2 separate regions of the Homo sapiens genome follow, and region 1 is reported to be linked to region 2. The links are microRNA targets in miRTarBase. Many come from high-throughput screens and were not tested one by one. Region 2 holds a microRNA gene; the other region holds the end of a gene's coding sequence.
What was found. The annotated mature microRNA hsa-miR-517-5p reads CCUCUAGAUGGAAGCACUGUCU and lies in region 2 at 1,622-1,643, shown strand. An mRNA with a match to its seed (bases 2 to 7 or 8) in the 3' UTR can be bound and repressed. Matches are read on the target gene's strand: a 7mer-m8 pairs with bases 2 to 8, a 7mer-A1 pairs with bases 2 to 7 and ends in A, and an 8mer does both.

Region 1: miRTarBase lists SV2C as a target of hsa-miR-517-5p. Seed matches in the 3' UTR shown: 8mer at 1,712-1,719.

The regions. Positions count from the first base shown.
Region 1 is chr5:76,324,764-76,328,166 of GRCh38, reverse strand. It overlaps SV2C (synaptic vesicle glycoprotein 2C), which reads right to left. Exons shown (of 13, transcript NM_014979.4): 13 at 1-2,803. The coding sequence ends at 2,620. Among named protein-coding and RNA genes, the nearest start is that of SV2C-AS2, 15 kb to the right of the region's middle. RefSeq lists an enhancer at 2,236-2,735.
Region 2 is chr19:53,739,711-53,743,113 of GRCh38, forward strand. It overlaps MIR517C (microRNA 517c), which reads left to right and starts at 1,603; the gene lies at 1,603-1,697. MIR520H (microRNA 520h) reads left to right here and starts at 2,802; the gene lies at 2,802-2,889. LOC124904765 (a long non-coding RNA gene) reads left to right here. Exons shown (of 6, transcript XR_007067334.1): 2 at 2,435-2,557.

The DNA.
Region 1 (3,403 bases), not on the chromosome of region 2:
TTTCTTAATCTCCAGCTAAATCTGGAGCAAGCTATACAGGCCACACCACATGCTTTGGAAATGATTTGAGCTCTCTTAGAAAATCAAGGTGATGAACAGTCTCAAGGAGGCAGGGAAGAGTGCACAAAAGGTGGGAGAGGTGGTGACCAAGAAGGTTTGTGACCACAGACTGTCCAGGAGATGAGAAAAGATCCCTCTTAGGCCACCAAGGATGCTTGGATTAGGTAACAAGTAGGCCAAGAACGGTCCTTCTGCAGGGGACACGGATGGCAGGTCTCATGAAGTAAGGTTTTGCTGGTTTATCCTATGCTGACCCAACCCAGTGTTCAAATAAAATTCTGAATAACTGTGCTCTGCAGCTTGGGAGATGTTTTATGCATTTAGACCCCAGAGCAGACATTAGAGATATTTTGAAAAGTAAAGGTAGTCTAGTTAGCAAAGTGAACTATCACAGAGGACTAGAGACAGCGATGCCCATGTACATTTCTATTTTTCTTTTGATGGGTTGATGGAGATGCACTCCTGGCTTTTGCAGTTATTTCTGCACATGCTGCATTCAACTAAAAGACCTGCTCAGGTCCCCAAATGTCTTTTTAAAGAAGACAAATCAGGGAGAGATAGGTGGGAAAATGGGTACATGTGGAAGAAGAAAAACATACAGGGTACTTTCTTGGGTTGTTTGACTGCTGTCTTTGTTCTCCAATAAAATGATAGGAGGCAGAAGTGAGAGAAAGTTGTTTCTTTCCCTGTGCGGTTGGTATCTTTCAAATGCATCTTGTCTAGCCTTCAGTGATTTTTCTTCTTCCTGCCACCTTTGCAGTTTTTGGTTCGGGTTTTCCTGATGTTCTAGCCCTGATCACAGACCCCCAGGGAACCACCCTCTTCCCACTGCCCCCAACACCAGTCTTCCCCCCTCTGCAGACCTGAATTACTTCAAGGGGAAGTCGATTAATGGCTTATGTTAATGAAAGAAGCTTTTCACTTAGTCTGAGCTCTGCGAGGGATCATTAGGAAGGGGAGGGGGAGGCAGGGGGGCCTCAGGGGAGTTAGGACATCTCTGAAAATAATGATCAGTGGAAACAAAAGCTTTCCCTTCCTGGAGGCCCCAAGCTATGGCTTGCCTGAAAATGCCTATAATAAGTAACAAGAATAAACCTCTATCGAGGCAGTTAAAAAAGGAATATTGTTTAAATATGGGATTTATTCCTGGCTTCTGGTCATTGGCTGCAAGTCTACAAGGAAGGTTCAGATTTCAAAGAAGAGGTGTAAAAAGGACGAGCCTGGGGGAAGGGGAGCCTGAGAGGCGAGAAGGTCATGTAGCTGACAGCGGGCCCGTGGGAATGTCCTGGCTGACCTCTTTCTTCCAAGCCCAGGCAGATTCCAGAGGTAAAATGAGCAGTCAAACAACCACAGGGAGATGGTCTGTCTGTGAGAGGGGCCCTCAGGAGTGCAGGCGGGCTGTGATTTTACAGGGAGCCAGGAGCGCATTGAGCAGTGGGCCAGCCCTGGGGAAGCTAGAGGGACAAACCCTCTTTGCTGATGCCAGCTGGGAAGCTGAATGTCAACTGCGGGCCAGGTGGGGTGGGGGTCCTGGCGGGCCAGTCCCACAGCAAAGAGGTACTGGAAAGAGGTACCATTTTGTATTTCCAAATGGCTCTGGGTGTGAATTTCTTCCTAATTTGCAATTTACAATTTAGCTATCCACTGGCAATCTCTAGACTAGAGACAGTGTGGGTAAGTGGCAGAATCAGGTAGGCAGACAGTTTTTAAGAAGCAGCTTTCTTTCCCTGAATCTGCTGTCTGGCAAGACCAAGGGCAGCTGAAGGAGTGGGAGTGGTAAATGGAGGCAGAAGCTCTCTCTCGGATCTCTGATTTTCAAACATTCTGAACCACATGCCACAGTCACAGATACTGTTACAGTTCTTTTTCCTCACACTTTTCAGAGGTTTAATTGGGCTTTCTGACAGAAATCTTGCTTATGCAGCACACTCAGATTTTTGCTGCTAATTGCAGAGCTTTTATTTTTCTTGTCAGCGGTCACCTTAATTGTCTTGCCCCAAAGAGCCCCACCCAGCCCTGTTTGGTGCCACATGGTTTTCTTTGAAAGGCTCTGCTATAACAGTGAGAATTACTGGGTGTCCTTTTCTAAGTAAACAGGAAATATCACTCTGTTAGAAAAAAAAAAAAAAAGAATCCCTCTTCTCAGCACAAATGCAATAATGTGCCGACTTATATTTCCTGTTAATGTTAAATTAGGAGCAGGATCTATTTCTTACACCAGCCCAGTCTTCTTAGCTTCTAAACTTTCAATGAGCAGAACCCCAGGGAAGCCTGGCTGCCTAGGGCATTTTAGAAATGCTTCCACTGATTTGCGGGAGGCAGTAGCATCACAGTTTGGAAAGATAACAATGCATTCAAACAAAACAAAACAAACAAACAACCTGTGCAAAATCACAAAGGGGCAAGATGATATGCTTCTAAATTTTAAGTCACAGCACGTGTTTATGTTCTGATACTTGATCACCTTTCTATATAGGAAAACTCTGAAGCCTTGAGTCAGGAAGGAGAATTGACCCAGGGCAGGAGGAAGAAACGCAGGAAGGATGGCTTTTTTTCCCATTACATCAGAACCTGGGTTCGTGTGTCAGGCAGGCACAGCCCAACGAGTCCTCCACACACGAGCACAGTAGAAGCCAGCAGGATGGGGATTGATTTGGTGATGCTGACCAGAGAGCCAAATATTAAGTTTCCCAGGACGGCTGCTGCCTTGCATAGCGCATTTAAGAAGCCAAAGCCTGTTGCCCTGCAAAGGAAAGAGACATGAACAAGGTTGAGAAAATGCCTCCCCATGATTCCAACTTTAGACCAAAAGATCCTAGATTTTCAATGATCTTCCCTCAGATTGTGTTGTATATCAGTGGAGCAAATCAATGCTTGTTAGCAAATCTGGGAGTAGAGAATCCTAGCTGTTGGTATTGTTCCTCCAGCCCTCTGTTGACTTTCTTACCATAGCTTCCATTGACTCTTACTCTGCCTGTAAGTCCCAATGTATTGTGAACAGAAAGAGAGAAAAAATTGTAGGGAGTACGAAACATCTCTAGTGGTTTAACGTTGTTGGAAGGAAGGGTCTTTTTCATTTTTATAGAGATTAGGTCTTGCTCGGTTGCCCAGGCTGGAGTGCAGTGGCATAGTAATAGTTCACTGCAGCCTCAAACTCCTGGGCTCAAGCAATCTTCCCACCTCAGCCTCCTGAGTAGCTAGGACTACAGGTGCACACCACCATACACAGCTAATTTTTATTTTTATTTTTGTAGAGATAGGGTCTTGCTATGTTGCCCAGGTGAGTACACTGGTACAATGATAACTCACTGCAGCCTCCACTTCGCAGGTTCAAGTGATCCTC
Region 2 (3,403 bases):
GCTGAGATTACAGGCACCCATCACCACACCTGGATAATATTTGTATTTTTAAAAATTCATTTATTTATTTATGAGACGGAGTCTCGCTGTCACCCATGCTGGAGGGCAGTGACACGATCTCGGCTCACTGCAATCTCTGCCTCCTGGGTTCAAGCAATTCTTCCTCAGCCTCCTGACTAGCTGGAATTACAGGAGCACACCACCGCACCTGGCTACTTTTTGTATTTTTTTTTTAGTAGAAATGGGATTTCACCATGTTGGTTAGACTGGTCTCAAACTCCTGACCTCAAGTCATCCGCCCACCTCTGACTCTTTCTGGGATTGCAGGTATGCGCCCCCACGCCTGGCCTAATTTTTGAATGTTTAGCAGAGATGGGGTTTCACCATGTTGGCCAGGCTGAACTCAGCTCCTGACCTTAGGTGATCTGCCTGCCTCGGCCTCCCAAAGTGCTGAGAATACAGGCGTGAGCCACCGCGCCTGGCCATCAACACCTTTTACCCCACAGAAATTATTCTGGCACTGGTTTATGGAACTTCACTTGGGGTCAGGTAGAGGTGAAGGGGACCCCAATGTCCCTTGCAGATGGGATGTGTACTGCTCAGCAAGAGCATGGAGGTGGAGTGCATGGGGTTTGAGTTTTCATTGGGGAAATGAAGCTGAAATCTTGGGTGCATGACCAGGTCGTATATGCAACGAGACGGGCGTCTCACTATGCCGCCCAAGCTAAAGTGGGCTTAGATCCTCCTGCCTCTGGCCCTCCCCAGTCCTTAGTAGCTGGGACTACATGTGAATATTAACTCATGTACAGGAAGAGGAAAGTAAGGACTGTTCTTTGATTCATGCCCCACCCCCACTTAAATTTCTATTTCAGATAAACAATGTATTTGAGATGTACTTGAACAACAAATGATTTGCTGTTTAGGTGTGGGCATCTTTTTTTGTTCCTAATTTTAAGTATAGGACAAGGCTGGGTACCACGGCTCACACCTGTGATTCCATCATTTTGGGAGGCCAAGACAGGAGGATCACCTGAGGTCAGTTGTTTGAGACCAGCCTGGCCAACATGGTGAATCCCCATCTCTACTAAAAATACAAAACTTAGCCCAGTGTGGTGGTGGTACACGCCTGTAATCCCAGCTACTCAGGAGGCTGAGGCAGGAGAATCACAGGAAGCCGGGAAGCTGAGCTCTCAGTGAGCTGAGATCGCACCACTGAACTCCAGCCTAGGCAACAGTGAGACTCAATCTCAAAAAAATAAAAAATAGGCCGGGTGCGGTGGCACACGCTTGTAATCCCAGCACTTTGGGAGGTCGAGACGGGTGGATCACCTCAGGTCAGAGTTCAAGAGCAGCCCCGCCATCAAGACAAAACCTCCTCTCTACTAAAAATGCAAAATATAGCTAGGCGTGGTGGTACACACCTGTAGTCTCAGCTACGTGGGAGGCGGCAGCAGGAGAATCTCTTGAACCCGTGAGAAGGAGATTGCAGTGAGCTAAAATCACACCATTGCACTGCAGCCTGGGCGACTCCATCTCAAAAAATAAATACATAAATAAATAAATACATAAATACATAAAAAATAACCCAGAGTACTGGAGCAAGAAGATCTCAGGCAGTGACCCTCTAGATGGAAGCACTGTCTGTTGTCTAAGAAAAGATCGTGCATCCTTTTAGAGTGTTACTGTTTGAGAAAATCAACGTTGAAGATGCTGCTGATCTTGGTAACACATTTGCAGAGCGTGCTTATCATCAGACGTGCATGATGTTGGGGTTCTGTTTGTTTTGTTTTTTTTTTCCAAGACAGTGTCTCTGTTGCCCAGACTAGAGTGGGTGGCACCTCCAACCGAGATCTCTTGGGCTCAAGTGGTCCTCTTTTTATTTTTTGATTTTTTGAGACCCACTCTGGTTTCACTGGGAGTGCAGTAGCAGAATCTCTGTTGACCGGAAACTCCACCTCTCAGGTTCCAGTGTTTCTACCACCTCAGCCTGCCGAATCATTGGGAATTCAGTTGCCTGCCATCAGGTCTTGCTAATTATTATTGTTTTTTTGTTTTTTTTTTTTGAGGCGGAGTTTCGCTCTTGTTGCCCAGGCTGGAGGGCAATAGCGCGATCTCGGCTCACCGCAACCTCGGCCTCCCGGGTTCAAGTGATTCTCCTGCCTCAGCCTCCCAGATAGCTGGAATTACAGGTGCCTACCACCCCACCCAGCTAATTTTTGTGTTTTCAGTAGAGATGGGGTTTCACCATGTTGGGCAGGCTGGTCTCAAACTCCTGACCTCAGGTGATCCACCAGCCTTGGCCTCCCAAAGTACTGGGATTACAGCTGTGAGCCATCACCCCTAATCTCAAATGGTCCTGTAGAGTCAGCCTAGACTGTGGTCTATCTTGGAGGATGTTTGTGTGTGAGACAATGTATATTCTTCAACATTGTAGATTCCATTTTGGATGCTTCCATCGGGACTGTGTGCCCCTGTCCTGGAACTCAGCTGAACACTTGGCTCAAAATCCATTGCTGTTCTCTGGAAATTCTGCCCTAATCTCTTGGTTAAATATAAGGTATGTGTAGTAGGCTTTGCTTTTTCTCTTTGGGGACAAAACTCAGGAGGGTTGCCCCTTGGTGAACAAGGCTAACCTGCTGAGCCTTTGAAGCAAGGAACTGGAGATGGTCCTTTTAGGGGTTTATGTTCTGGATTCCAGAAAATATGCAAACAGGGCCAATAAATGCATCTTTATTTTGTGTGTATTTTAACCTGGTCAAGGAAAATTCCAACAAGAAACCCAGAGTGCTGGAGCAAGAAGATCCCATGCTGTGACCCTCTAGAGGAAGCACTTTCTGTTTGTTGTCTGAGAAAAAACAAAGTGCTTCCCTTTAGAGTTACTGTTTGGGAAAAGCAGTGTTGAAGTTGATGCTGATGTTGGTAATATATTTGCATGCTTATCATCAGACTTGGATGATGTTGGGGTTCTGGGTTTTTTTTGTTTTCTAAGACAGGGTCTCTGTGGCCCAGGCTGGAGTACAGAGGCACTTCCAACCTAGGTCTCTTGGGCTCAAATGGTCCTTTTTGGGACAGAGTCTTGCTCTGTGACTCAGGCTGGAGTGCAGTGGTGCAATCTCAGCTCACTGCACCCTCCACCTCCTGGGTTCAAGTGATTCTCCTGCCTCAGCTTCCTGGGATTACAGGCACCTGACATCATGCCCAGCTAATATTTGTATTTTTCTTTTTTATTCATTCATTTATTTATTTTTTAGGTGGAGTCTTGCTGTTGCCAAGTCTGGAGGGCCATGGCACGATCCCGGCTGACTCCAACCTCTGTCTCTCAGGTTCAAGCAATTCTCCTGCCTCAGCCTCCTGAGTAGCTGGAATTACAGGCGCTTACCACCACGCCTGACTGCTTTTCGAA